Linked DNA regions of Homo sapiens: all the other regions are linked to region 1. Evidence: fine-mapped expression QTL. A gene starts in region 1. Each other region holds a variant in brackets. All regions are shown on one strand. Distances are from middle to middle.

Region 1 (10,135 bases):
GCGAGAGGGAGGAAGAAATTCATTATTTGACTTAGTGCATACAGCTGACCCTGAATTTGTAGCCTTCAGGCCAAAATGACAAGAGGTCAGGAATGAGTCAGGCAAATTGTCAAGGTCTGCAGGGCTCCCCAGAGTCTGGAGGTCCTGCTCTCTTTGTCCTATCGCGAGCCGTCCCCCTGCTTGGAACAGTGATCTCACCATCGCGGCGCTGGAACAAAGGGAGAACACAGGAAGGGGGCTCCACCAGCCAATGTCACAGCCCTGCTCCGGGGCCACCAGCGCTCTGTTTGGTAGAAAATTGCAGAATTAGCTCAACGGCTCAAACGCAAGTTTTCCTTTTTCGGAAAGGGAATGAGGGGGGGCCCAAGAATGGGGTGCATCTCCCACAGGGACGGCCACTCGGGGGCCAAACCCCAGTAGCCAGTTTCTTCGGATCCAATCCCCGTGCTGGCACAGTAAAGAATCCTTTTATAAGCTGGGTGGAGAGAATGTTACACTTCTCGCCTCGGTGAGTTCGTCCTCCCAGAACTTTGAAAGGAAACAGCGTGGGATTGAAAGAAAGGGGCAGGTGGGTGAAAAGCTGAAGTTTTTAGACACCTTTGCGGGTGGGCGTTGGCCGGCTGGTCCCTGACAGTGGCAGAGGCGACCGCCCTTCCCCCCATCATCCATACCCCAGCCCCAGATCTCTCTCTTTTCCTCCCGGTGACACTAAGTCCCAGACCGGCGGCCGTACTTGGCCTTACAGTGCAAAATGTGCTTGGCGAGGAAGTCGAGGCGGCGCTGTAGCAGCTGAGCGTGGGGGTCTGCAAGGGCGGCCAGCTCGGGGAAGCGAGGCTCGTGGCGCCGGTAGAGGCGCAGCAGCCGGGCCGCGGCGTCCTGTCCGCGGTGCAGCTCCAGGACGCGCCGCGCGGTCCGCTCGCGGAACACGCACACTGACTGCAACAGCGGCTCGTTATACTTGTCCCACATGCCTGCTACCCGGTAGCCGTGCACCAAGCCCGCCTCATTGTCCAGAAAGACCAGCGCCCCGCCCGGACCGCGGTGCAGGTTGCTGGTGGCACGCTGCATGACGCGCGGGTCCCACTGCAGGCTGAAGAGGTTGCTTACGAGCCGGTCGAAGTTGGCCGTCAGGTAGTCGAAAAGGATTAAGTCGGTCCATTGTACTAGGTCCACCAGCTCCGCCTGGCTGAGGTTGGCCAGCTCACCCCCGGCATCCCGGAGGGGGCGCAGACGGCCGTCCTCCGAGCGCCAGGGCGCGGGCACCACCACGTCCGTGAGGTTGGGCAGCCAGCGTGTCAGGCTCACCACGCTGCCCTCGGTCCAGTGCGCAGCGCGCAGCTCCTCCTGCACCTGCGCCCACTGCGCGCCCCGAGCCTCCACCCGAGCCAGTGCCAGCGGCGGCACGTGGCGCTGGAGGCCCAGCAGGCGCGCCAGATAGTAAGACAGGGCCTCGCCCTGAATCTGCTCCGGGTTGATGCCGTAGCGCACGCAGGCGCGGGTGCCGTCGGCAAAACGGGCCAGTCGGTTGGAGCTGCGCCCGCAACCCCCGCGCTCCAGGGCCACCATCCGGGCGCCGCGAGCCGCCTCCAGCCACGCCGCCGCCTGGGCCTCCGAAAAGCCCGGGGGCACCTGCTCCTCCAGGCCGCGGCTCCAGAAGACGCCCCCGTGCACCGCGGCGCTCTCCTCCGGCCGGGGCTGCCTGGCTGACACGTGCCACCTGGGCTCGCTCCGGGACTGCCGGGGCGGGCCGTCCGCGCCGGCCGCCAGGGTGAGCAGCGCCCGGAAAGTTTTCAGGGAGCCGCCGCGGGCGTCCCACGCCAGGGGCGGGGGCAGAGGGAAGCGAGGCGCGGGCGCGGGGCCGCCGCTCCGGGCCGGGCGCCGTGGGAGTCGGTCTTCGGGCGGCCGGGAGGCGGGCAGCTCGGTCCGCGGCGGCAGGAGCCCTCCCCACAGCGCCAGCAGCGAGCCCAGCGCCAGCAGCCAGAGCCCCGCGGTGGCGGCGGCGCCCCGCATCCTCCTGCCCATGCTCCCGCGGCTGTGCCGGTGCGCCGCCGCCGCTTCAAGCCGAGCCCAGGCACCCGGGTCCCGGCGGCGAGGCGGGCCCGGCAGTTTGTGGGCTCCGGGGCTTCGGGCGCTTCGGCCCCATCGCGGCCGCGGGGCGCTGCGGGGCTCTGTCCGGCGCTCCGCCCGGCGCTGGGAACTCGAGTCCCCGCCGCTTCCCAGCTGCTTTTGTATTTCGCTGTGAGACCCTCCGGTGGGCGCGATTCACAGGCGCCCGGACCACGTGGGAGCCAGGGGGATCCCCCTCCCCCTCCTCCGCCTCCGCTCCCCGCCCCCCGCTCCCCCGCCCCCTTCCTCTCCTCTTCCACTTAAAGCGGCGATGGCTCCTTCCGAGAGGGAGAGGCGGCCCCACACTCGGTCCGGGACTTGGGGGCCTGGAGGAAGCCGGACTGGCTGCGCCCGCGCCGGGGCGTAGGAGGGGGTGGCGCAGAGCCGGAGTCTGGGGCCTGGCGGGAGGGACGCGCCCTGGGCCCTCGCGGGGGTGTCTTGGTCGCCGGGTCCCTTTGCCTAGGCAGCGCGGGTCTCCTGCAAACTTCAGACAGATTTCCACCTCTTTCCGAGCTCCGCCAGGCTAGGATCAGGCAGGGTCCCTTTGCTTTCTCAGTTTCTGTCTGGGTGATTCACGCTGCTTTATGTAAATCTCTGGGAATGTCTCCGAGCCACAGAGGATGTGATTCCAGCGGAAAGAGGAACCCGCTGTAGCCAACAACTTTGAACCGACACTCCCTTTTCCGAGCTCGCACATCAGCACCAATCAGTATTGGCCGCTCTGCCTTTCCCAACGGACTCCCAGGGAATGAAGCCTCGCTGTGCACGTGCCCCTTGAACACCTAGGCCATCTCCCATTCATTCATGCATCCATTCAACACAGCGACTGCCCCTCAGTTCTGGTTCTGCTTACCAGAAGCAAAATCCACAGATCCGGGTCCCAGTGCTGCTGAAATTTACATTCCAGTGGGACTCTCAGGTTGCTAAGAGAGATTATAGCCATCCAACCTCGTGTTGGGGAGAGGGGAGTCAGGGACGACTTTTCGAAAGAAATGATACCGTTTTGTCCATGAGGAAACTGAGGCACAGAGAAGGGATGGGTGTTGCTCAGGATTGCACAATTAGCAAGGGGCGAAGCTAAAAGTCAAACTCAGGTCTCCTGGCCGCATGCACTTGATTTTCCCTCCATTAAGAAAGATCAGTATTTTTTTTTTAATCAAGTCAGCATTCTCAAGTTTGAAATTCACTGTCATTTGACCACTTTGTTCCCCAAATGTGATTTTTCAATTAAAAGGATTTTTCAAATGGAAAGGAAAAAAACCTCAATCCCATACTGCATTTGATTTACTGCTTTTACGATTTAAGGGAAAAAGAAATGGTGGTGGTGGTGGGGGAGGGAGGTGGTGAAGGAGCAAAGAAAACAAAATGAACAACCTCTTCACCCCAACACATCTTCCAGCCACCTCTGGGTTACATTTACCAGGAAAACTTGGATGCCAGTCGGCCCTCCCTTACCTCTCTGTATCAGAATGAGTCCCAGATCCACACTGAGATTCCCAGGGTAGACACAAGATCAGGGGCATGGTGGAATCCACCTCTCAAAGGCCAGAGTTTGAAATCTGTTTCCTTACATGGTGTGTATCTTTTCTCTCCTTTCATCTTCCCATCAGGTGCACATGGGGGTTTTCAACTGGACTACCTCATCAGTTGGCACTGATTATGTTTTATTCTCCAAAGAAAAAACGTTCTAGGGTGATAGAGCGTTCCAGGGTGATAAAGCAGACACTCTTATGTTTATGGCTGAGCAGAGGCATCAAAAAACCACATTTGGAGTATTGCAGCACTGACCCAGGATACAGTCAAGTGTTTTCACTGGTGTGGTTAAGTACATACTGGATGAACTGTTGAATCTGTTCCCAACCACATGGTGGCTATACCATGCCATTTTATAACTCTTATCTGATAATGAGATTACTATGGCTCCCATATGGTTGCATCGAAATATATTAATCCATTCAAAGGTCTTATTTTTTTGGCCTATGTAAGCCCCTCCTCATCTTTCCCTAGCAGGCAGGGACTATGTCTTATTTTTTTATTTCTTATACCACCTAACATAGTATATTACACTAAATAAGCACTCAATAAATTTAATTTTTTTGTCTTTTGGTTTAACTTCTACTGGGATATATATGTATTTATTTGAAAGGCAGCCTCTTTCAGCGTGGGCAAACTATAAGCAAGATCGCCACCTAGTGGGCATAAGTAGAGTATCATCTAATTGGAGAAAAGTAGACATTTTTAACTGGATGATTAATTGTTGAAGTTAAATTCGGAAGACTATTAAATGTCTACTGTGTACCAAGCTATGTCCTAGGGGATATGGAGAAATCCAAAGTAGTTGGGGTCTCTGTCTTTTTGGCTGCTAACAAAAGCTGTAAGTAACTACCATTGTAAACTTCCTGGGGAGTCTGTCTTGTCCATTGTTTTATGGCTGCCTGGGCACAATGCCTGGCACTTAGTGTGTGTTCAACAACAATTTGCTGAATACATCGTTAGAATGCTAATGAGATGCAAGTAGCATGTATCAAGTTTTTTTAAATTAAATACCTTACTACTAAATAATGCAAAACAATTTTGTCCAACGGTTGTGAGTTATTGTTCAGCTGATTAAAGAATACAAAATAAGAACTTCCACTCATTTGAAAAAGAAAAAATATTGGTGAGGGTTTTGCATGATAGATGTGAGGGGAAGCACATGATTTTAATTCTGGGAGGGCTGGCTTCAAATCCAGAGACTAGAAATCCTGGAATCTCCTAACCATATTGCTGGTACTGATGAAAAAAACCCAGACTTAAATAAATTGACTAAGATCGTACACCTCATAAGATGGACTAATTTTATCATTGAGCAGCCCTTTGCCTATAGCCATAGGACTGAATGCATCATGTACCAGAACAGGATGCATTAATTTGTTAAACTTTAACAAATTAATTGAAATGCAGAAATACAGAAAACCAAAGGAACAAACACTGCCCCTTCCTCAAAGTGGAATGCAGTTTTGGAATGGTATTTGATTATTTGAGACAGGGTTTAAAAACATGCCTCTGTTTAGCTGTTAGATGAAAATACTCCCATTCTCCTTTATTTTCTGGACTGAGGACACTCCCCTGCCACCTGTGGCCAAACCACTTTGGCTCTGTGGGGTAGCATAGTTAATCACCTCAGTCACTTCTGCCCTCTGGCAGTTGCTTGGGGATGAGAAATCCATTTGCACTTTTATGACTTTCTTAATACTCCTTAGAATTTATCCCTGAGCCTGAACTTCCAATATCTTCAAACTTTTCCACAGTCCTGTTTGAAGAATGATCTGGTTCATGTAATGGTGCCTCCTGGGGGAAAGAGAGGAGGTGGAGTTGAGGGTTGGAAGCAGGGGAGGAGGCTTGGAATTGGAATATTTTCCAAGTCTGGCATTAGCACTTTCTGGCTTGTTCCTTGTTCTAGTTATTTACTTTCTGTGAGTTTCAGTTTCAGAACCTGAGAAATAAGTTAATAAATCCTTCCTAACTCACAGGGTTGTCATGCAGCTCAAGTGAAATATTAATAATAACCACAGCATCAGTGGCAGCAAACACTTATTGAACTCTTATTATGGGCTCGGTGTGGAGCTAAACCCTGCATGTGCTTTATCTCATGAAACCCCCCCAAAAGTATTATTATACCCACTTTACAGATGGGGAAGTGGAAGCTTAGCCAATCAGTGGAATGAGGTCATGCAGCAAGGAAGTGGCAGGGCTGCGATTCCAAAATGATGGGGACCAAACCTTTTGTAAATTATAAACTGCTAGGGAAATGTCAGGTGCAGAAATTATTACATTAAATCAAAATAGATTCAACTGAGATGAAATTTTGGTTTCATGTGTTCTCTGGGGTTTGTTCCCAAGTGAAATGGTTAAGAGTGTGAACTGTCAAGCCAGATTGTCTCATTAAAACCCAGTCCTGCCACTTACCAGGCATGTGACTTCGGGTAAGTTACTTAACCCCTTTGTGCCTCAGTGTATATATCTGTAAAATGCAATAAGAACAGTATTACTAGTATTACTAACAAAAATTATAACAATATACAATATCTCATGATTACTAGTAATAGGAACAAATCTTATAGATTATTGTGATGATTAAATTAGTGCTTATATTTAAAGTGCTTAAAAGAGCATCTAAGTGTTCACTATAGTATAGCTGTTGTTGTTCTTTTTCCTTTCTATTTCCTTTCTATTTCACTGTTTCAGTGCTCAGATGGGGATGTCTTCCTTCTCTTGTTGCTGTCCTCCACCAAGTCTCACTTGGTCTTGAGAGACCTAATACAAGTGGTGTTCCAGCTCAATGCACCTGCTTTATGCCTGAAATGGTGTCTTTCCTGATAATTTTGCAATATTTCTTCCCCATGGAGCTGGACCACCTGGCTTCTACCAAGGTTCCCAGTGTAACTCTTGTTAAATGCCCAGAGCCTCCAGCCAGCCTCGGGCAGACAGCTTCTGGCTTCCTCTCACTAGTCTGCCTCCTTCAATCCTGACCTTTTCTGGATCTCCTGAGTTATAAGCCCCTGGAAAAGACAGAGGCGTCCAAATGTACCCTTCCACGTGCTTCTACAAAAAGGAAGAGAGGGGACAAAAGATGTCAGAGATGAGTATAATATTCCATGGAAGTGGTATGACTCCTACATTGGCCACTACTCTTTGACCCTGGGGAGTTTTCTAACCCCCTGGGCTATAATTTTATTATGTATGTATCTCTGTTACGGACTGAATGTTTGTGTTCCTCCTTGCACCATAAATTAATATGTTGAGATCATAACTCCCAATATGGTGGCATTAGGAGGTAGGGCCTTTGGGAGGTGATCAAATCATGAGGGTAGAGCCCTCATAAATGAGATTAGTGTCCTTATAAAAGAGACCCCAGTAAGCTCTCCAGCTCTGTTTTCATCATGTGAGGACCCAGAAAGAATACCGCTGCCTATGAGCAAGGAAGAGTAGCCCCACTAGACACCCAGTCTTCTGGCACCTTGATCCTGGACCTCCCAACCTCTCTCTCTCTGTCTCTCTCTCTCTATATGTAGATAGATAGATAGATATCTCTATCTATCTATCTATCTATCTATCTATCTATCTATCTATCATCTATCTATCTATGTATCTATCTATATATTTTTTTTTGAGGCAGAGTCTTGCTCTATCACCCAGGCTGGAGTACAGTGGCACAATCTCGGCTCACTGCAACCTACACTGATTTTCTTGCCTCAGCCAATTTTCTTGCCTCAGCCTCTCGAGTAGCTGGGATTACAGGTGTGTGCCACCACAATTACGTCCGGCTAATTTTTTTTATTTTTAGTTTTATTTTTGGTAGAGATGGGGTTTCTCCATGTTGGCCAGGCAGGTCTCAAACTCCTGGCCTCAAATGATCCCCCCGCCTTGGCCTCTCAGAGTGCTGGGATTACAGGTGTGATCCCCTGCGCCCGCTCAAATGTTTGTTGTTTAAACTACCCCAGCCAATGGCGCTCTGTTATAGTAAGCCTGAACTAAGCCATTCCCTCCTTCCCGTCTTTTCTACCCTAGGGTACATTATGTTTCTGCTTGAGGATCAGTTTCCTTTTCTTGGTATCTCTATTTGACTATGATCTGGGTCTTCCAAAAATTGCTTAACTGATCTCATTCTCACATTCTTGGCTGTCAAGGGTGGGTATATTGATGCCTGGTTCCAGATAAATCCTACTGGAGAGCTAGAAGGAGGTCAGGAAATAGAGTAGTCTTTGAATGCAATGAACCTATCTGCTTGAACAAGTCCCACTTTTAAGAACACATTGTGTTTCTGGAAAGAAAGTCATGGTTGACAAGAACCTTGTAAATTGTGATGAGACACATTTTTACGATTCTCTTTATTCCACCTAGCTCTCTTTTGGACCTGCTTTGCAAAGGTTCCTGCAGACACTAGTGTTAAAGACTCGAATCTAAAGGTTGGAGCACCGGTGAATCAATTTAGTAAATTTTAGAGCAGTCGCCAACACATATTTCAGTCCTGGTTACAGAGTATGATGGTAAGAATTCTGGACTGGGCATTTGGAGACATGAATTTCTCTACTATAATTTAGTTCCACAGACATTTGTTGCCCACATGGTAAAGGCCAAAGGACTGAGGAATAAGTGATTGGGCATCAGATCTTCCTTCACACCTGCATCAGGGAACGTTTGTTGTCTTCTTTTCATCCTCCGCCTTCCCTTCCTCCTTTTTGGCAGGTCTCTACCTTCATCCTCTGTGCCTTTAACCTTTAAGGGATGCTGAATCCTGTTTGGGCTGAACCAGTCATGGTGCTTTCAATTCCTTGCAGTGACTGGTTAAGGCTTAGGCATGTGAGACCATTCTGGCTAGTGAATGTTACGGGGGAAGCCCAGTGGAAGGTTTCTGGAAAAGTTGTCTGTACTCTTACAGAGACACAAGAAAGATATGGCACCTTTTCTGCATGGTTCAGGCTGGATGGGAGGCCTGGAACTGAGGAAGTCATGTTAATGCAAGGGGAACTACGTTCACACAATCAGGAAGGCAGAGTAGAGAGATGGAAGGAACCTGGATCCTTGCTGATGTCACCAAGCCCCCAAGTTAATCAACTCTGGAAATGCCCTTCCTCTAGATTTCCTGTGGTTTAAGCTACTCTGAGTTGGGGTTTCTGTTGTTTGCAGCCCAAATTCTCCTGAATGACATACCCTTTCACATCAGAGCTTACAAACTAAGGAAGGAGGCTGACTTATAAACAAACAGATCTCTTCCATCACAACTGGGCTACTGGGAAAGTAGTGTGGTTTAATGTTTTGGAACATGTGCTCTGCAGCCAGGCTGAGTCTTGCACCTATGAGCTGTACCATCTTGGGAAAATCACTTAGCCTCTCCGGACCACTTAACTCATCTGTAGAATGGAGATGGTAACTGTACCTGCCTCATTATTGTATGGATAAAATGTACCTTAAGCACTTAGAAAGGACTCAATAAATATCAATTGCTGTAGATATTATGGAAATAGAAAGCACACGCAGGAGCATAGAATAGGGAGTGACTGATTCTGCCAGGGAAGTCCAGGAAGGCTTCACCGAGGAGGCAGGTGTTAAGATGAGTCTTGAAGGGGAAGTGGAGATTTACAGGTGGGGTGGGAGATTCAGCCAAGTAGAGGGAACAGTGTGTGAGCTCAACAGCTGTGTGCCCACAGGCAGATTACCACATCTTTCAGGAGCTCAATTTCTTTGTCCTTGAAAGCCCTTGAGTGTGTTGAATTAGCTTAATCCTCTTTTGGCAAAAGAAGTAAATCTCAGGCCCCCGCCCTAGATTGAGAGCCACCTCATTAGAGACCCTCCATGGCCCCTTCATCAATAACCTATGATTGTTGGTCTCAACCCACCCTGAAAAAATTCACTCAACAAACACTCCCACTAAAAGAGGTGACTCTCGTTCTTCTTTGTTGATTTCTATTCTTCGTTGCCACCCAGAGATTTATCCAGTGCACAATTAGTGATTCTGTGCCTCCTCAGCTTTCCAAGGCCCCACATATCTCATCAGTCAGATAGATGCTGAAGCTTAATTAAGCTTGTAAAGCTTTCTGATTTCCTCAGATGAAAGGTAGTTCATAAGTACCAGGTTTTATTTTGGTAGCTCCTGCCAAGGGTTATTATAAATAGGACTTAGTGCGACGTGGCTAAGCTCTTAGGGTGATAATGTGTCAAGACCAATTGAGGCTGCCGAAAGCAGAGATATTATCATAATGGTTCTATCATAGGCGGTGGGTGTTAATGGAAGTAGCTGTGAAAAAAAGAAAGTACTGCAGCCAGCAAAGCCCGGATCGAGATGGTTGCAAGTGAAATATCGGCTGCTCATGGGATCTCCATCATAATCATTAACCATATTAGCCTTGGAGCCATTCTTCTGCCATCTCTCCTAGACCAGGCTCACACTCAAATAAAAAATGGATGCTTTAACTCCAAATGAAAATATATTCCTTTGCTGCTTTTTAAAATCCATTTACATTAAAATGATGGCCAGCAGGTAAGTAAT
Region 2 (10,135 bases), 72 kb after region 1:
CATTCTATTGTAAAGACACATGCATGCGTATGTTCACTGCAGCACTATTCACAATAGCAGAGACATGGAATCAACCCAAATGCCCATGAGTGATAGACTGGATAAAGAAAATGTGGTACATATTCACCATGGAATACTATGCAGCCATAAAAAGGAACGAGGTCATGTTCTTTGCAGGAACATGGATGGAGCTGGAAGCCATCATCCTCAGCAAACTTATACAGAAACAGAAAACCAAACACCACATGTTCCCACTTATAAGTGGGAGCTGAAGCATGAGAACACATGCACACAGGGAGGGGAACAACACACACTGGGGCCTGTCGAGGGGAGCAGCGGGAGGGAGAGCATCAGGATAAGTAGCTAATGCTGTGGTGCTTAATACTTAGATGATGGGTTGATAGGTGCAGCAAACCACCATGGCACATGTTTATCTGTGTAACAAACCTGCACAGCCTGCATATGTGTCCTGGCACTTGAAATAAAATTAAATTAAAATTTAAAAAAACCTGAAAAATCCCATTACTGTACAACATGGCCTCGTTCCATTAGCATGGACAGTCAAGCCTGGACTGCAATTCCAAGGAAAAACAACAACAACAACAACAACAACAGCAACACCCCAAAAATCAATCTAGCTGTGCCCATTGGGAAAGACACCTCTCGCCTTTCACCCTGGAGTAGCTGGGTTGAGGTCATCTACGTCTGAAATCTCTCAGACCACTGTGGTAGGTGAGAACCCAGCTCTCTTGGCCCCCAGACCACTGCTCGGCTCCAGAGCTTCCCCCTCCCTTGCCCTTTCCAGAATCAGTCCTTTCCCCCAACAGGTTAATCTTTGCTTCCAGCACCCCAGTAGCCTCTGGACTGACCACTGCATATTTCATCTGGTGCCCTTTCATTTTCCTTCTGCCCCCTTTCTGATCTTCCCTTGACTTCCCACGACAGATGTGGAGATAAATTTGTTGGTTTCTTGGCTGGGAGCTGGGTCTTCTTTCTAGTTCTGGCCTGACATTTTCCTTAGCTCAGCAGGGCAGAGACAGCAGCTTCACTCAGGCCTCAGATGGGGCAGAGGAAGAGTGAAGAAGGTCTGGTTGTTGGATAGTCTTATTGTAGACATGAGGAAAGAAAGAGGAACTAATTCTGATCCCCTCCGTCAGTACAGTGCCCTGTCTCAGTGGTTCTCAATCCCTGCTGCACATAGAATCAACTTCGGGGTCTTTAAAAAAAAATGTCAGCTTCCCACTCCGCAAAATTCTGACTTAATTGTCATGGGAAGATTCCAGGCCTCTGTAGTTTAAAAAGCAGCCCAGGTGGTTCTAATGTGTAGCCAGGATGGAGAACCATAGCTCTATTAACATGATTCAGAGATACGCTGACACTAGGTGGGGGCATCCAGGCAGGAGTCTCAGCTCTGGCAGTTTTTTTTTTTTTTGCTGGGTTTGAGCTTCATAGCTTCTTTGAGCTTCAACTATTTCTCCCTCTGTAAAATGCAGAAGTTACTTACTACTTCTTAAGATGGTTAGTTACTGCCTCTTAAGATGGTTAATAGGCCAATCAAGTTATGCATTTGCATTGCTTGGTACATAATGCCCAACTATGAGCACTGATTGGTTATTTTTCTTATTATTTTGCCTTCACGTTAGGCATTGTTCTGTCCTTCTAGTTCTGTTTTTACCCCCAGCTACTTTAGTGTGAATTAAATGATCAGATTTCTATCATATGTCTGTGGGAGGACATGCACTAAATGATGGGAAAAGGCGCAGGATTAAAACTCTTACAAAATGATTAAATAGAATAAGTTTGTCTCCAGGGACTCCACTCTCATTTCCTCTTTCTGTGCCCTAAGGTTTACAGACAGGATCTGGGGCCAAGAGAAGCACTTCAGTACCGAGTGAGCAGCCCCAGGGAGGATGGAGAGAATTCCTCTGCTCTGGAAATTTTGTCTTTAATTTAAGTACTTTCAATGCCATTATGAAATAGGACTTTCCATAGCTCCCTTGCTGAAGCATGTTCCATTGATCCCTAGATAGTTACATTTCTCCTGGTGACCTGTGTGGTCTTTTCCTATGAGTACTCTCAGAGTCACCTCCCGTTTCTCCTGTAGCTTCCTTTGGGTGTGACCAGGAGGGCTAGGATGTCTAGCATGGTGGGCCGATGAATGAGTCCTTCCAGTCACGATTAGCTCTGCAAAGAACTCTGCCCCTTACTCCTGATAGCACAAGTGTGTCTTGCTGGACACAGCAGAAATGTCAATGGAGGATGGAAAGGTCAGTGCAAATGCATCACCATGCTAGGAAAAATATTAATATTAATATTAATAGCTCAACACATATCCTTCATAATGAAAAGAACAATGCATCTCTCTCAAAAGATTTGATACTAAAGAGACAGGCTGTGGTGCTCTGGGGCAGCGGAAATTGACTTCCAGAGAGAGGCTCAGAGGGCCAAGTGATGGCTGTTGAGAGAAGCCCAGACTTTCACAGCAATGGATTTCCAGCTCAGAGGATATTACATTGCCTTCCCATAAAGATCTGCTCTCCATTAAGACAGAAAACAAACAATGGTTTCAAATACAAGCCTTGAAAGGATTAAGCTAAAGAATCTAACAGCAATTCAATTTCTGAGAGTTGATGCTGTCTTAAAAAGAGGCCGTACAATAATCCTAAAGAATTTTTAAACGTTGTAACAGTATCTAGAAGTCCTTTGCATTGAATCACTTAATAATTCAGCAAACATTACATGCCTAATGAGCATCTGTTTCTCCTGTTTCACCACTAATATATCACAAGGACGGGTTTTCCAAATTGCAGGCATCGATTTTTGATTGAACTGCTCCTCACGCAGGCAACTGACTCTGCGTAGCGTGATCCAGGGCAAGTAGCTGCATGGATTTAATTGTGTGTCCTGGTGAATTGAATGACCGACTCACTATATAAAGAAGTTTTATTGCTAAATTAAAAATGATCATAGCTTGGTATTAATTATTAGCAATTATAAAAATTATTGTGACTTCAACATAAGCTTTTATTGTTTCCGTTACATTTTATTTAACAATGGTTAATTCTTTCTCCTGAGCCAACCTCACAATACAGTGAGTGAGATAAAATATATCAAGTGTTTAGCATGGCGTCAGACATTTAGGAAGCAGACAAGAAACGATGGTCTTCATTTTATCACAGGAAAACTATACTTTTCCCAAAAGATAAAAGCATTTTGGAAAACTGTGGGTTTTCCAAAAGAGAAATAAAAATGGTTCCAGCCTGGGCTGGGCGCGGTGTCTCACTCTTGCAATTGCAGCACTTTGGGAGGCGGAGGCTGGCAGATCACAAGGTCAGGAGTTCGAGAACAGCCTGGCCAACATGGTGAAACCGTGTCTCTACTAAAAACACAAAAAATTAGCTGGACGTGGTGGTGCATGCCTGTAGTCCCAGCTACTCAGGAGGTTGAGGCAGAAGAATCGCTTGAACCCAGGAGGCGGAGGTTGCAGTGAGCCGAGGTTGTGCCACTGTACTCCAGCCTGGGCGACAGAGTAAGACTCTGTCTCAAAAAAAAAAAAAAAAAAAAAAAAATGGTGCCAGCCTGTTGGCTAGTCTGATTATCTAGAAATGACAGTGTTCATGAAGTTCAGGGTTGGATATTCGTTGACATTGTTGTTTTTGCCCTTTCTTGAATTAATATGGTAGCTCCCCCTTATCCATGTGTATTAATCTGTTTTCACACTCACGCTGTGGATAAAGACATACCCGAGACTGGGTAATTTATAAAGAAAAAGAGGTTTAATGAACTCATGGTTCCACGTGGCTGGGGAGGCCTCACAATCATGGTAGAAGGCGAAAGGCACGTCTTACATGGAGGTGGCAAGAGAGAATGAAAACCACGCATAAGGGGAAACCCCTTATAAAATCATCAGATCTCATGAGACTTACTCGCTACCATGAGAACAGTATGGGGGAAACCACCTCCATGATTCAATTTTCTCCCACCAGGACCCTCCCAGAACACGTGGGAATTATGGGAGCTACAATTCAAGATGAGATTTGGGTGGGGACACAGTCAAACCATATCACCATGGCTTCTCTTTCTGCAGTTTCAGTTACCTGGTATAGTACAATAAGATATTTTGAGAGAGTGACAGAAAGAGAGAGAGATAGAGATACTACACCCACATAACTTTTATTACATTATATTATTATAATTATTCTACTTTATTATTATTGTTATTAATTTCTTACTGTGCCTAATTTATAAATTAAGCTTTATCATAGATTTGAATGTATAGGAAAAAACAGTATATATAGTGTGTGTGTACATATATATCTATGTATATATGTGTGTGTGTGTGTATATATATATATATATACACACGTATAGATATATAGGCTTCAATACTTGCAGTTTCAGGCATCCACTGGAGGTCTTGGAACATATTCCCCAAGGATAAGGGGGGAATACTGTGGTAATATTAGCAGCAACTACTGTGGTAAGCCAGGTCTCCCTAAAGGCTGAACAGGCAGGCCTCCATAACAACTATTTCAGCACTGAGTGGTTAAGTTAAATATTAAAAGCCAAAAGACCTAGTGCCCCTATACAAAGGCTGGAATGTAACAAAAGCCCACCAGGAGTTTTGCCTAGGCTTTTCCTGGGCTTTGAAGCATGACAAGATAACGAAGGAACTCTTAACAGGAGCCGTTTAGGATTAAACATGTCTTACTGGGGGTCTGAAGAAACTCCCCAGGCCTCCACAAAGAAGCTTATTAGGGGTCTAAAGGAACTCCC[C/G]AAACCTCCATGATTTCGCAGGGGACAAGATAAGGGTAATTACCCCAGCACCTGGACGTATTTGGATTAAGTAAATTTACTAAGGCTCCAGAGGAAGGTGTTCAGGATTCAGATCTTAGTTATAGATTAGAAGAATTTAATCACTTACGTCTTTCGATGAATGCACACTTACATGTAGACGTATAGCTTAGAAGGTATATAAGCTCTGGAAAACTTTGTAATTTTGAGTTGGTCTGGCGATATTTTCCAGGCCTTCTCCCTGTACCCAGTTATAGACATAAACTCCCTTCTCTCAGTTCATCTGCATTTTTGTTATTGGGCTGTGAAAATAAGCAGCCTGACCCTTGGTTTGGTCTAGGAGCACTACTGCAACTATTATATTATAATAAATATTAATATTAGTAGGAATAGTGGTAGGCGCGTTCATAATTATGGCTGGTATCAGTTGTTTCTGATTCCCCAGTATTTTGGCCTCTGCTTTCAGTAACAACTAGGCTTTCCTTTATATAATTATCCCTCCCCATTGGAACTGGTCTTGGTTGGGATGTCAGAGTGTACACCTTCCTTTGGCCAGTGGCTCAAAGATGGCAACCTGGTGGAGCTGATGGGTCCTGACAGTGGCACCCTAAAGAGTCCATCATTAGTTCCTGTGGCTGACATATCTGGGGCTCTTCTGCTTCCTGGTTCTTTCCAAACCTTGGCCATTCAATTTAGCTGTTGATTCTTTCAGTTGTCTCAGAGTCATCTAATGTATTTTCTTTTCTTTTAAGTTACACAGAGATGATTTGCTTTGCTTAGTAATCAAAGGGCCCAAAATAATACTTGAGAGGTCACATTGGTCATAGTAGCTGTGGTGGTTGTTGTCATCCTTTTTGAAGTCACAGTAGTAATAACTACCACATACTTACTATCTATTATGTTCTGGGCATAGTCTAAGCATTATCTCATATCATCCATCTAACAATCCTGTGAAGTAGCAGATACATACCATTACCACCCCCTTTTGCAGATGAGAAAACTGTGGCTTAGAGAGATCAAGTAATTTGCCTGTAGCTGGTAAGTGATGGAGCCAGGATACAAATGCAGAATGTCCAGCTGTGATCCTTATACCCTTGATCACACCATAGCTTCTCTGTTAAATGACTCGTTGGGACGTGCCTGGCGATGTGCTCATCACTTTATATCAATTACCTAGTTTAATTTTCACAAAAATAATTAAGTCTCAGTATGGGTTCTGATGGCAGCCATACAGATGAGGAAACATGGGCTCAGATAGGTTAAATACTTTGTGACTGTTGCTCAATCCTAACATTCCAACCAAAGCCACCAAGCTGAGAAAGGTCTGAGCCTGTTGGGAGAAGAATGAAGACAAGGGCCTGGTCTGCCCAGATTTAACCTCACTCTGTGAATGGAACAGAGAACCTTAAAAACATGTCAAGAATTAGGCTTCCTTTGGAGGATTCTCAGGAGGTTTCGGCAGAGAGGAAAAACTTCCTTGTACTGAGATAACTTTGAAATCCTCATAATGAGGCCAATTTTTTTCTCTTCCTTTCTTCTTTGAGAATTCCAGGCCTGATTAGATCATGCTCTGTACTGGAGTCGGCCAAGGGCCATGGTTTAAATCACGTGCTCCTGATGACCTTACAAGAACATCTAAGAAGGATAAATCTATTTGTTTTACACTGAGATAATGGAAAATAAAGCTACCCCTGCTCCTCTCCAGGAGATCTTGCTTGCCAAGTTGGTTTTCATAACACACTTTTACAGTTGATTTATCTTCTCTGAAAAGTGAGACAAAAACTAAAAAATAAAGCAGCACTTAGCAGTGCTTTTGCCAAAAACAATGAAAGCCAAGAGCATCATCGTAGACTCTGTTACCAGAATTGGCAGGTTGATGTGTTTCCAGACATGGGAACAAAGACCCCAAATTCCAATGAGTCTGGAGAAATTTTCAATGGCCATCTTTGTAGTGTTTTGTCAGGAAATGAATGATTGGAAGGCACTTGTGTGGCTGCTGCTTGGCTTTTACCATCAACACCACATCCCACTGCCATTTATGGCCCCCACCTCCAAACTCCCAGGCCGAGTGGGGTTGAAAATTTGGAATTTGTACCCAGGAGGTAGAATGGGGCCACTTTAATAATTATCTGGTCGGGATGATTTTCTAGAGGATGCTGATGAGGGTGGTGTTGGGGAGGAACCAAGGGGATGGCAAAAGAGCAAGTGATTTCTGCTTTGCATTTAGTAGCAGTTACTTCTAGACCCAAACAACTTATTTGCAACTTTCAGAAGCATGGAAGGATGGGATTGTCATTGACTTAGTGTTTCTGTGCCTCGCATTCCTTTCTGTAAAATTGGGGCAATCCAGTGCCTAACTCAGGCTAGATGGGAGAATTACATGAGATAATGCATGCACTGTGCCTAGCACAGGGTAAGTGACCAATAAATATTAGGCTTTTGTTATTATTACACTCCCGGCTGCCTTGCAGCTTGGGTCATTCTGGGTCCCCATCCATGCCCACTCTTCTGCCCTCAGGGACTTGTGGCCTTCTTAGATTATATCTAAAATCTTTCCTGGGCTAACATTCTATTACCCAAGCCTATTCCTCTCTGTTTATAGGTGAAGAGAGAAACTGATGCCCAGAGAGGTGAAGTGACTTGTTCAAAGTCACAGTTAGCAAGTTTAATTCTGTTGCTGCTCTTACGTATTAGTTACCTATTGCTGCATAACAAATTACCCTAAGATATGGCATCTTAAAACAACTAACATGTATTATCTCACGTGGTTTCTGAGGGTCAGGGATCTGGGGGCAGCTTGGGTTTATGGTTCTCTCATCAGGTTGCGGTCAAGATGCCAGCTGGGGCTGTGGTTTCTGAAGACTTGACTGGGGCTGGATTTCATCATTTCCAAGATGACTCTGAAGGATAGCAGAAAATGCCACCCCAAAATATGCCATTTTGGCTTAAGAATTATTTTGAGCTGAAGGCAAAGGAGGAAAAGCAGATAGATACAAGAAGAGTTATCTGCCCTCCCTCTACTTGCCAGAAACACGATGTAAGTTTGTAAAGGTGCCCTCTCTCTTCTCCCTACCAGGAAGGACAGAAGTTAGTCACTAGAGACAACAGTAGACCCTTATAAGCCCAGAGAGGGCACCAGAGAAATCTTCATTAAAAACCTTACCAATGAGTCCTTCTCTTCCATTAGCCCCCACATGTATTTGCCTTTCCATAATTTGCCACCCCTAGAAGCTCAAAGTCCTTTTCCTTTGTCTTATCACTTCTCTAAAACTGTATGGTTCTTTTGTTAAGATGCAATATAAGCCCAAGTTCTAGCCACCCCTTTGTGTTACTCACTGGGTGTTCCCATGTGTATGTGTCATGCACATGTTAATGCAATTCTGCTTGTTTTTCTCTTGTTTATCTGACTTTTATCAGTCTAATTTGCAGAGCCCAGCCAACCAATGAATCTAAGATGGGTAGAGGGAAAACAGCTTTTTCTCTCCAGCAGCTTACTCAGATGGTTGTTGTCAGGAAGCTTTCATTCCTTGCCTGGGAGCCTGTCCTCAGGGCTGCTCAGGACATGACTTCCCGCAAGGCACGTGATCCAGGAGGGAGTGCAGATGGAGGCAGCAGTGTCTTTCATAAACTAATCTCGGGAGGGATGTGCGGTCACTACTCCCATCTGTGATGGGTCACACATACCAACCCTGGTACACTGTGGGAGGGGATCATGCAAGGTTCGTGACAACCAGGAGGCCAAAATTATGAGACACCGTCTTGCAGGCTGGCGACCACCCCCCTTTAAGTTAAAGACAAAGTCCTTAACAGAGAACTGCTTAACTTATCAGCCTCCACTCATAAAATACTCCTTTTGATCTCTGGGCTTTGGTTTACACTGGCCTTTTTTCAGTTGCCACACACACCACGTTCCTGCCCAGCCTGCCTTTGCAAGTGTTGCTTCCCCCATGCCTGGAACACTAATGTATCACTCCATCTATTAATATCCCATCAATTCTTCTTCATCCTTTAACATTCAGCTCTGGCAACACTTCCTCCAGGAAGCCTTCCCTGCTCCCTTAGCCTAGGTCTGGGCTTCTGGTCATATGCATTGTCTTGGTTGAAATTGAGTCATCAATTATTGAATGGATGTCTCCCTTACAGGAGTATGTGGTCTGACTTGCGCTCTCTGGGTTACAGGCAGGGAGCACGGATCATAGAGTCATGCTTAGATTCCAGGTTTCTTCACTCAGAATCCTGGATCCAGACTCTTAATAACCACTTTTTAATCCTCATTCCTAGAGGGAGAAAAATAGCTGTTATTGTGCCTTGTCCTTATACAAGCCTCTTTTCTTTGGTTCTAAAAATAGAGTGGTAGATTTTCCAGACTAAGCATTGAGCCTATATTTTTGCCTCCAGGCCCCCTACATTGGCCACTAGAAAGCATTTTTTTAACTGTATATTATTTTATTCCCTCATCAATTTGATTATTCTTTGTCAGCCAGTACAGAATTTTAAAAATCACCAGCAATACTCTTTGTCACAGGCATTCTTTGGAGACCCAGGTCTGCTTCTAGAATACATTGGGAGGAAGAATTGGAGAAGATAATTCTTTCTTTTTACCTGGCCTTGGGGTTTGGCATACTGAGAATCGCTTGGGACAGTGGGGATGTCTCAACTTTAGCCTAAAATGGAATTCATGTCTGCAGAAGCAGTGACGGGGGGTTAGCGGAGATCAGGAGGTGATTTGCAGGACAGCTCTCCCACCCTTAACACGGAGGAACCAGGGGATGGGGAGGAGCCCTTGAAGTCAGCCATGCATTTGAGTCCAGTGGAAAGGAGGCTCCTAAAGGAAAGAATGAGAAACTGTTTACACAAGAGTCTCTGTGACTCTTGAGGGCACAAGGAGGCCCTTTTGAAGGTCTGGGTGACCCCATGTGATGCTGAGGGGAGAGGGACAATCTCCTCACTTCTGAATGGACCAGAGCGGCCTGCTGGCACTTAGAGCAGCTGTGGGAGCAGTGGTAGGTAGCACCCTTGCCGTGGACATTGGCATTCTTGTGAAGGACTGGCATCCACGGCCGCTGGGAGGCAAGCATTGCCAACTCCTGGGGGCCTTCAGATGCAGGCAACATAGGTGAGTGAGGTGGGAGAAGAGAAAAATCCAATGGTTGCAACTGGATGCATTGTGTCTAATGGTGACTTGTTGGTTTGTGAGCACCTGAGAGACACTTCCAAGGGATGCTGGGATACAGGAGACTGAGATCTCATGGGGGCGTTGATGTTCCCTAGGATCCTATGGGAGAAAGAGCAGTGAAGTGTGGGAATGGCTGTGATAGGTGACCAGTTGCTACCCACAGGT
Region 3 (10,135 bases), 25 kb after region 1:
AGTGAATGAATGCACATCACATTTGTAGGGATGACCCTTTGTGTCTTGTACCGTTTAACAGATATGCATGCACCTTTGTGGGACAAATTGTTCTTTTTTTAAGTCATCTTTTTAGCATTCAATTACAAGAAGAAAATGGCCAAGCAGGCAGAAGAGTTCTGTATTATTTAATCCATCCATCTCCTTCTCTGGCTTCTGGCAAGGGAGGCTGCTGTACTACTTCTTTCCCACCACTCAGTAGACCGATGGAAACAGGAAGTTGAGTGCTCTCCCTGCCGTTGCCTTCAGAAATCTTGTAGCATCTGACAGATTGAGACACATTGCTTCTCTCTCAATGAGGCCTGCATTGGTGACAGTCTCCAGGCAACATGATTGAGAGGGAAGCTGGACAGTCTGTCAACTTGGCCTTCACAGGGCTATTAGAGTGAAGCAAGAGATAAAATGTATTTTGTTTTCAACAAGGTTCCATGTCTGTCTTATATTATCAACTCCAAAACATACCATGAAATATGACTTCTTATTATCCCTACTTTTAGAGCACTTAGAAACTGTTAGGCGAGGTGGAAGTAAAGAACTGGGTGTAACTGGCTGCAGCAGCTTATGCTTGTAATCCCAGCACCTTGGGCGGCTGAGGCAAGAGGATTGCTTGCGTCCAGGAGTTCAAGACCAGCCTGGGCAACATAGTGAAATTCTGTCTCTACAAAAAATAAAAAACTAGCTAGGCATAGTGGCGCATGCCTGGAGTGCCAGCTACTTGGGAAGCTGAGGTGGGAGGATCCCATGAGTCCTGGAGGTTGAGGTTGCAGTGAGCTGTGATCGCACCACTGCACTCAGCCTGGGTGACAGAACGAGAGACCCTGTCTAAAAAAAAAAAAAAGAACTGAGCGTTAATTTTTCCTGAGTAGTATGATGCTACTCTTTCTGAGATCACTATTTGTGGTAGATAAGATAATGCCCTCACACCCCAAAGTTATGAATTCTGCTGCTATCGTGTATGCTAATGCCTTCCATAGGCACTAGAAAGGCACTTTAACCATTGACCATTATTTAAGGATCCATTGAAAAGTAGAGTATATGTTTCCTATTGCTGATGCCCTGACCTAATCCCTGGAACCTGTGAATATGTTATGTTATATGGCAAAGGGAAATGCAGGTTGGAGACGAAATTAAGGTTGTTAATCGGCTGACTTTAAAATAGAGAGAGCATCCTGGATTATCCAGATGGGATCAATGTAATCACAAGGGTCCTTAAATGTGGAAAAGGAAGGTAGAAAAGTCAGAGTGGCTGAGAAAGACTCAGCTGGCCATTGCTGGCTTTGAAGATGGAAGAGTGTCATAAGTCAAGGGATATATGGAGCCTCTGGCAGCTGGAAATCACAAGAGAAAGGATTTACCCCCAGAGCCTCCAGAAGGAAGCAAGGTGTCCTTGCTGACACCTTGATGTTAGCCCAGTGAACCCATTTCAGACTTCTGACCTCTAGAAATATAACATAATCAATTTGTTTCATTTTAAGCCGCCAAGTTTGTGGCAATCTGTTATGGCAGCAATAGGAAACATATACTCTACTTTTCAATGGATCCTTGAATAATGGTCAATGGTTAAAGTGCCTTTCTAGTGCCTATGGAAGGCATTGGCATACACGACAGCAGTAGAATTCGTAACTCTTGAGTGGGGATATTACCCCATGCCTCATATTCTGTAGAAAACAATATTAAAGCTACATTGCTTGTCTAGCCTTATACCAGAGGGACTTATCTGACTGGTGTGGCCTGGTGATTTGGGCAGGGTTCAGCTGAGATTGTTCATTTCCATTCTCTGTGGTGTTTGTTGGGTTCACTCACATATTTGTGGTCACTTGGCATGTTGATTGGTGTTGCCTGATCCTGGATGATGTAATTTACAGGCCTAGCAGTTGGCTGAAGTGTCAGCTGGGGCACTTTGGTTTTTATCCACATGGCCATTCCACTGGTTTAGCTAGCCTGGGCTTCTTCACTTGGTAGGTGAATTTTGAGAAAGAATGCAGAGGTTGCTTGACTTAGACCTTGGCTCAGAAATTGCTTAACATCATTCTGCTTCTTTCCATTGGCCAAGGCAAGTGATGGGAACAGTAGCAACCCCACATTGCCGGGGGCATATATACAGGGATGGGAGGCATTTGTAGCTATATATATATATATATATATATATATATATATATATATATATATAAAATATAAATATTTTTTATCTAAATATATAAATATAAATATTTATATATATATATTACATATATATATATATTTTTTTTTTTTTTTGCTGTTGGTGCTGTTGTTGTTTTGAGATGGAGTCTTGCTCTGTCACCCTGGCGGGAGTGCAGTGGTGCGATCTTGGCTCACTGCAACCTCTGTCCCCCCGGTTCAAGCGATTTTCCTGCCTCAGGCTCCTGAGTAGCTGGGATTACAGGCATGCATCACCATGCCCAGCTAATTTTTGTATTTTTAGTAGAAATGGGGTTTCACCATGTTGGTCAGGCTGGTCTCAAACTCCTGACCTCATGATCCACCTGCCTTGGCCTCCCAAAGTGCTGGGATTACAGGCGTGAGCCACCGTGCCTGGCCAGCAATGGTTTTTTAAGTGTTATACTCTCTGTGGCTCCCTTTCTTAGGTTAGATGGCCTGAAGCTGGTATAGGTTCTTCCTTCTGTTCCTGCCTCTTTCATGTGGTGAGTCTGCCAAGGCAAGCTCTGCCCTCAAGAGGAAAGGCTTCCAGTTGTTTAGCTGCTGTGGCCATGAAAAGGTGGCTAAGTATAACTCAGTATGGAATAGAAAACTCATTCAGATCACAGGGACAGTTTCCATTCACCAGACCAGGTAGCCAGTATTACCACTATTATTAGGACCTCTGATTCCTTTGTATACTTCTCAATTGCTTCAGAACGTGGAAGACAGAAAGGCACGATTAAGTAATACCTCAAGAACTTAGCAAAAACCACCTGAAGGATACAGAGAAATAACCAGTGACAAGAAGGGAAAAGTTCAGGAAGGACAAAACTGGGACGTTATTCTAAAAGTGAAGGTACACATTCTACCAATATAAATGATGAAATAGGATGCACAAGGAAAATGGTCTTTGCCATCCTTATGGACTAACTGTAATATGTCCAATAATTAGGATGTTTAAAATATGTTGACAAAATTCTGGAAAGCATTGGCTGGTTTTGCATTTACATTCTGGTGAAGTCATTTTCTCCCTGTAACTGATATTTGGACAGTTCTCCTGAGACAGCAATGGGGCATAATATAAACTGTCATATAATCATTTAGACATTTCAATTCTCTCTATGTCTTCTTTTTGTCGACAACCTAAAGGAATATATATTGCACATACACATAAACAGACGTGTTTTCACTATTGTTGTGGATGCAATTGATAATGGAAACAAGAAATGAAGGGTCTCTGAAGAAGAGTGAGATTTTTTCAGTTCAGTCCAGTTAGTGAAGTCCAGTTCAGTTCTGAACTTAATCCAGAAGTTGTTATTTTTCCGCAAAAATGACAGTGAAAAATCAGAGGGTTACATGGGAGCTCTCATTTTGCAGCTGCAGAAGCAACAGCAGCAGCATGGAGAGAAGGCATTGGTGTGTGGCCACACGCAGCTTTGGGGTAAGAGCAGGCAATAAGGAAGCAGTGCATTATAATGGAAGGAGCATGGGCTTTGGTTAAAGATAGACCCATGTTTTTGACTCCTGCCTTTGCAAATTACTCACTTTCTAACCTTTCCTGTTTTCATTTCTTCTGTAAAATGGGGCTGATTGCCCTCATCTCATGACTATTGTAAGGATTAAATAAGATATATTTCAAATGTCTACTACTGTGCCTTGCACATTGTAGGCACACAAGAGTGATGACCATACAGAAATGAAATTTGCAGAATTCGTGGGGGGAATTGTGATTCAAGTCCTTGCATGGGTCTGAGCAGTAGCTAGTAAGAACAGAAGTAGCTAGGGTGGTAGAGATAGATAGATAGATAGATAGATAGATAGATAGATAGATAGATAGATAGATTGTAGAAAGCTCCATGTTTTTAGGGATGCATTTTTAGCAAGTACATTATAAGAGATAGTATTAGAACTAACTTTTCACTTTCAGATAATTCTCAAGAAATAATAGGTCTGGTTGGAAAAGCCATGGACTAGTGTGACAGGTCTAAGGGGATAAAAGAGTAATATAAGATGACAACAGAATAGGCAGAACCGGACCACACTTGGACACAGAGAGCTCTCCAAGCTGATTTTGAGCTGTGTCATACCTATGGCAGAGGCAGTATTGGTTCCCATGGGCTACCCTCCAATCTTTCCTCTTGTCGACTTGGCAAGCCTGGGACCTCTTCTGAAAACCTCAGCTCTAACAACTCCTAAAGTGTCTCAGTGTAACAGGTAAGGAAACTGACAAAAGCAGGGACAAGGGCACACTCTCCCTGTTGAGCCCCTCAGTTGGTTTAGCAACCAGGGAGAGGCCACTCCCTGGCTTAGCTCTTTCATCCATAAGCTAGGATCCCTGGTGCCTCTCCCAGTTCTTTCTGCAACCTGCTATAGCATCAGGAGGAGGGAGGGACTCAAGCCATCTTTCTGCAACTCAATGCTCATATTTCTGGCTTGTTATCACAGTGATGTATCCTTAGGGACAGTGAGTCACATCCTAGAAGTAGCTGGCATCCTTGGAGCCATCCCTGACTTTCTCTCTCCCAGCAGGGTGGGAGAAGAGCACCTCTCCTTCCAAGGCATGGAGGCAAGAAAGTCTTCCCCTTCTCAATCCTCTGTTATGGCTAAGCTTTACACACTAGAGTTCAGGTGTGCAAAACCAGAAAGGAGCTTCTTTTGTTTTAGTAATGGATTGTCTTCTGCTCTGAAGCCCCCATAGAAGTAGGGGGAAAAACACAAATAAAAATAGACATGCCAATAAAAGAGAACCCAGTCTCTTCCAGTTCAAAATAGTTCCCTTTGGGCAAATATTCTGAAGTGGTTCCTACCAAGTCTGTTTCTCTCTTTTCAAGAAGTTGCTTTCTACTCTTTTTCAAGATGGCACCTGAAGTGGAGGGAAGCAGAGCCTTAAATATCCTCACAGCAGAGAGGAGGAGTTCTGCACCTGTGTGTGGTCCTCTGGGCTGCTGTTCTCTGGGCCCCAGCTTCTGGCCTTAATAGCCTTCCTTGCCTCAATGTGAAGCCTGGTGGACCTGGTGAATGTTCTCTCAGCCCATGGAATACAACTTCAGCCATCTTCTGCTGCTGACTCCAGCCACCTGAGATTTTGCTGGTGATACTGGTCCTTTGAGACATGGTCACAAGCTCCTTGAGACCCCCAGACCTGGCCAGACCTCCCTGTGGCTTCTGCTACAGGGTTTCCCCATCTTGTGTCTCAGTGAGCACTTGCAGGCAGGCTTCTCAATTCTTAATTCTTCTTTACTTTCGCCATCCCTTTTATTGGTCCCTGAGAACTTTCCAGATCTTCTTTGTGCTCTGCTGAAGCCAAGAGAGAGCTAGGGTGGGCTAGAATGAGGCTATCTCAGGCCCTGGCTATACAGGCACCCACTTCTGCCCATGCTGCCCATTAGTACCCAAACCTGATGTACACGGCACCCTTTGGAAATGCAGACTTTTCCCACAGGCTGTGGCTCTCCCAGGCTGTACCTGGGGAAGCAGAGCACCAGCCATGGTCTTGCTAGGTTTCTCCAAAGTTTCCTTAAGTTCCTAGCGCATGCGCACACCCAGCCCAGCC[A/T]GGGGTTTTGATTTGGTTGTGGGAGGGAATTCAGGACACTGTCACACTTGCCCATCCTCTCTTCAGCCCTCTTCTCAGCTCCTCCCTCCACGGAAAGCACCTTCTATCTTCCCCTTCTCTCCAGCAAGAACTGTCCTCATATCCTCCTTCTTCCTTGTTCTTTACCCTTTGCCTTCCCTTTCCCAGGTCCAAAATGACAAAAGGATTATAGGAGCAGAAACAAGATTTCCAACCAAGGAAAAATATGGAAAAGAAAGGGACAGGCACCTCAAGCTGTGTGTCCCAAGCCTTGGTGAAGGCCAACAGAACAGGGAGTGGCTCACCTCCCATTGAGATGTTATGAAACTAGGAGGACCCTCAGGAATACTATAGTCTAGGAGGAGGTTCAGAGAAGTTAAGTGGCTTGCTCAGGATTGGTGACTTGCCCAACTAATTACCCCTACTAATTAGTTGAATGGGGTCCAGTGTTCATTCCATTTCACCACACTCCCTCCATATTGTCAGTTAATATCAATGCTAAAACATCACAAATAAATATAAGGAGGGAATTGAGACAATAATAACCAGAGGCACGCTGTTGTGGACGAGGAGGAATGTATTAGTCAGAGTTCTCCAGCTCTTCAGAAAAACAAAACCAACAGGATGGATGTGTGCTATATATGTAAATATATGGAGACAGAGAGAGGGGGAGAGATTTTAAGGAATTGGCTCACATGATTGTGGAAACTTGGTGAGTCCAAAATTAGATGGGAGACGTGAGGAGGCCGGCAGGTTGCAGACTCAGAGAAGAGATGCAGTTTGAGTTGAAAGACAGTCTGCTAGCAGAATTCCTTTCTGCTTGGGGAGAAGAGGCCAGTCTTTGTTCTATTAAGGCCTTCCATTGTTTGGATAAGGCCCACCCACATTATGGAGGGTAATCTGCTTTACTCAAAATCTATCTCATCCAAAAAACATCTTTGCAGAAACATCCAGAATAATGTACCAAATATCTGGGCACTGTGGCCCAGATAAGTAGACACGTAAAATTAGCCATCACAAGGGAGTTGTGGGTCTCATTGTGAACTGGAAAGATGTTGCCGAAAAGGATCCACTATCTTATCTCAGTGGGTGGAGTTTCCAGAGAGTTAGAGATTACATCTGGATTTTTGTTGTTGCTGTTGTTGTTTTTGAGACAGGGTCTTGCTCTGTCACCCATGCTAAAGTGCAATGGTGCAATCATGGCTCACTGCAGCCTTGACCTCCTGTGCTCAGGTGATCCTCCCACCTCAGTCTCCTGAGTAGCTGGGACTACAGTCGTGCACCACCACGCCTGACTAATTTCTGTATTTTTCACAGAGACAGGGGTTTCACCATGATAACTAGGCTGGTCTCAAATTCCTGGGCTCAAGTGATCTGTCTGCTTTGGCCTCCCAAAGTGCTGGCATTACAGGTGTGAGCCAGCATGCCCAGCCTAGATTTTGGGTTTAAGTGGGTGACCTGGTCCCCGGACACCACATCAAGAAAGGAGGGAAGATAAACAATGTTGAGGAAGGGAACAGGGAAGAGATGTTTCCCCATCTGCTTTGCTTAGGTCATGTTTGTAAGTAACAAAAACCGGTTCAACATGGAGAAACCTTAAATACATATTACTAAGTGACAGAAGCCCACCTGTAAAGACTGCATACTGTGTGATTCATGTTCTGGGAAAGGGGAAACTATGAAGACAGTAAAAAGATTAGTGGCTGCCAGGGGTTGAGGGGGAGGGAGGAGTGAAAAGACAGAGTACAGAGGATTTTTAGGGCAGTGAAACGAGTAGAGCTGATACTATGCATTGTACCTATGTCCAAACCCATAGAACATATACCACCAAATGTAAATTGTAATGTAAACTATGAACTCTGGTGATAAGGATGAGTTCATGTAGGCTTATCAATGGTAACAAATGGAAAACTCCAGTGGGGGATGTTGATAGTGGGGGAGGCTGTGCATTTGTGGAGGCAGAAGGAATTTCTATATCTTCCTGTCAATTTTGCTTTGAACCTTAAACTGCTCTAAAAAATTTAAGCCTTAATGAAAGAACAAACAAATCAGTTAAAGCTCACTTTTTCTTGCAGGGGAGTTTATTATAAAGACACAGGAATGTTTTTTTGGAAGCCAACAACAGGAACAAAATGGGGCTTGGAGAAGCACCAAGATCAGGGATCAGGGCACACACAAGCCATACTCAATCTGGGTCTCTTGCCTCTGATCTCTTCTTCCATTCTTCTTTTTTCCTGGAGCCTTGATTTCTCTGCTTCTCAATTTGCATGGTGGCTGGAACATGTCCATTGTACAGGTCTGGTTATCCGAAGTCATATTCTCTTTTTCTTGATTCCATTTCCAGTTCCTGGGAGAACTTTGTTCAATCTAACTTGAGTGAATTGGCAACATCTGGGCCAATCAATCATGGCAGAAGATTGAGGCAATATTTTACAAAATAACTGCCAAAGGCTCACTGCTGTGATGAGGAGGGAGTTAAGAGTTTCTACTTGAACTGGGTGGGCATTGCCAAAAATGATCCACTCCTTTATCTCAGTGGGTGGGGATTCCATGGCATTAAAGTTCATATCCATGAGAACTGGCATGGGGCCGCCTACCTCTCTGACCCTCTACCCATCCTCCCTTTGGTGGATGCCAGCCTCTGTGACATTTCTCAGTAGCTGCAAGTAGCAAAGAGAACCTGTGGGAAATGCTAGCCTTGCCTCCTGCCTTCCGTTGAGGGCAGATTGGGACTTGTAGCTGCTATCAGCTGCAAGGAACTGAGGGTCATGCCATTGCATTGCCTGAAACTGGAGATCATTCACAATTCAGTTCATGGTCCAAGAAACAAAAATAATATTTAATGAGCAAAATCTTCTTTGTCTAATTATGGTAAATGTCAAGGTTGAATCCAAGTGCTTTGCTTAAGGTCAAATGCTCAGTGCTATCGAAAAGCATTTAAACCAAAGCTGATGGGCTATTAAAGCCCAGGCTAGTTAAAATAAGGCACAGTTCTTTAGTGATTTATTTCCTCCTATTGGAAGCAGTAATGTTGAAGTTGGAACAGTCCACAGCAGCTTGTGCTTTGCTCTTCTCCGCTGCTCTCTATAGACAGGCGAGGGATTCTCTGATGAAATCAATGCTCCAAGTCTCCTAAAGAGTTACTTTCAAGGACCAGGAATTTCATTTCCATTTGGTCAGTTATTTTAAGGTATTGGCCTCTTTCTGATTTAATTGGTCTGAGGTGAGACCTGGGCATTGGTATTTTTTTGGAGGCTCCCAAGTGAAGTGTTTCTAATATGTACTGGGATTGAGAACAACTGAGCTAAATGCTTGATTTAGTTAATTAAAATAAAATGCTGAAAGCTGATGCCTTTGGGTCCTGAACTCTTCTCCATATTGCTCTGCCCTTACTCATAGTTTTCATTCAAACCAAATATATATTCTTCTCTCCTGCCTCTTATTTTTGGAACCCAGAGCTGTCTCCCAGGAGGTGGCTTGCATTGTTAAGCTCCAGAAAGGGCAAAGTAACAGTTCCATACTCCCTTTGCATTTGGTAGTGAATAGGATGGAAACTATCCCCCAAATATCTGTTAGCCCCATGTCAAATGGATTGGTGAAGACCAGTTTTGAAGGTTCAAGAGAGAGATGAGAATTCACACTACGGGACAGGCCACTTCAGAAAGTCTGAAAAGAATGGGACAGCAAAGCTTTCCTGAGCAATGAAGAAATCTTTCTCCCATTATTTATGCACACTGCTTCACTGTTCCTTCTTTCTTTCTTGTCATACAATAGAAATAATGATCTTGGTACCAGACCCTGTGTTGTGCGAGGACAATTAATCACCCACCTAGTCATTTATTTCCTCATACTCTTCCCCACCAGGACCATTATCCTGTAGGTAAACAGAGGTGCCAGTAAATCACGGACAGAACACAGGTCAGTGGGAGAATGGTTGATTAAGCGTCTCTATAACTTAAAGTTATGTAGTACCTCTCATCCCAAAGGATCTCCAAGCACCAGATAGACTGATGTACGCACTGCTGCAGAACCCCTCTATTTGTCACTTTCTACACCTTTGCGTTAGGGGGCTGGAATGTTTATTGCCCTTTTCAGGCAGTTACCCTAGAAACTGCAGTCATGGGTAAGACAAGAGGAAAAGGAAGGAACTTTTCACTTTCCTGTCCTTTCAAGCAACAGAAATCAACTAGCAATCAGAGAGTAACCTACCCATCCTCTTGGGCAAAATTTCTTTGGTTCATGAAATGCTGCAAATATTACACAATTCCATGTTTCTTCTTTTTCTAAAGAGGGCAGCAACTGAGTAGGCATTGAGGTTGAGTGGTGAGTGTGGACAAGATCTAAAACAAGTATTTCCAGGGTAAA

Direction of the effects. Alleles are on the strand shown, and positions count from the first base shown. SD is a standard deviation of normalised expression in the study named. Not every link is listed here.
In carriers of allele A in region 3, the expression in fibroblasts of the gene that starts at base 2,199 in region 1 tends to be lower than with T alone (small effect, 0.15 SD a copy in GTEx).

Evidence for each region. PIP is the estimated chance that this variant, and not a neighbour inherited with it, causes the effect.
Region 2: its variant is the best candidate, but not a certain one, in a credible set for the expression of FJX1 in fibroblasts (GTEx, PIP 0.60).
Region 3: its variant is the best candidate, but not a certain one, in a credible set for the expression of FJX1 in fibroblasts (GTEx, PIP 0.74).

The regions. Positions count from the first base shown.
Region 1 is chr11:35,610,524-35,620,658 of GRCh38, reverse strand. FJX1 (four-jointed box kinase 1) reads right to left here and starts at 2,199. Exons shown (of 1, transcript NM_014344.4): 1 at 1-2,199. The coding sequence starts at 2,022. The coding sequence ends at 709. RefSeq lists enhancers at 610-1,244, 1,245-1,879 and silencers at 1,452-1,721, 1,732-1,991, 2,012-2,081, 2,179-2,340, 2,162-2,491 and 1 more.
Region 2 is chr11:35,538,219-35,548,353 of GRCh38, reverse strand. No RefSeq gene overlaps it. Among named protein-coding and RNA genes, the nearest start is that of PAMR1, 18 kb to the right of the region's middle. The variant C/G (reference allele first, on the strand shown) is at 4,777.
Region 3 is chr11:35,585,091-35,595,225 of GRCh38, reverse strand. No RefSeq gene overlaps it. Among named protein-coding and RNA genes, the nearest start is that of FJX1, 28 kb to the left of the region's middle. The variant A/T (reference allele first, on the strand shown) is at 5,753.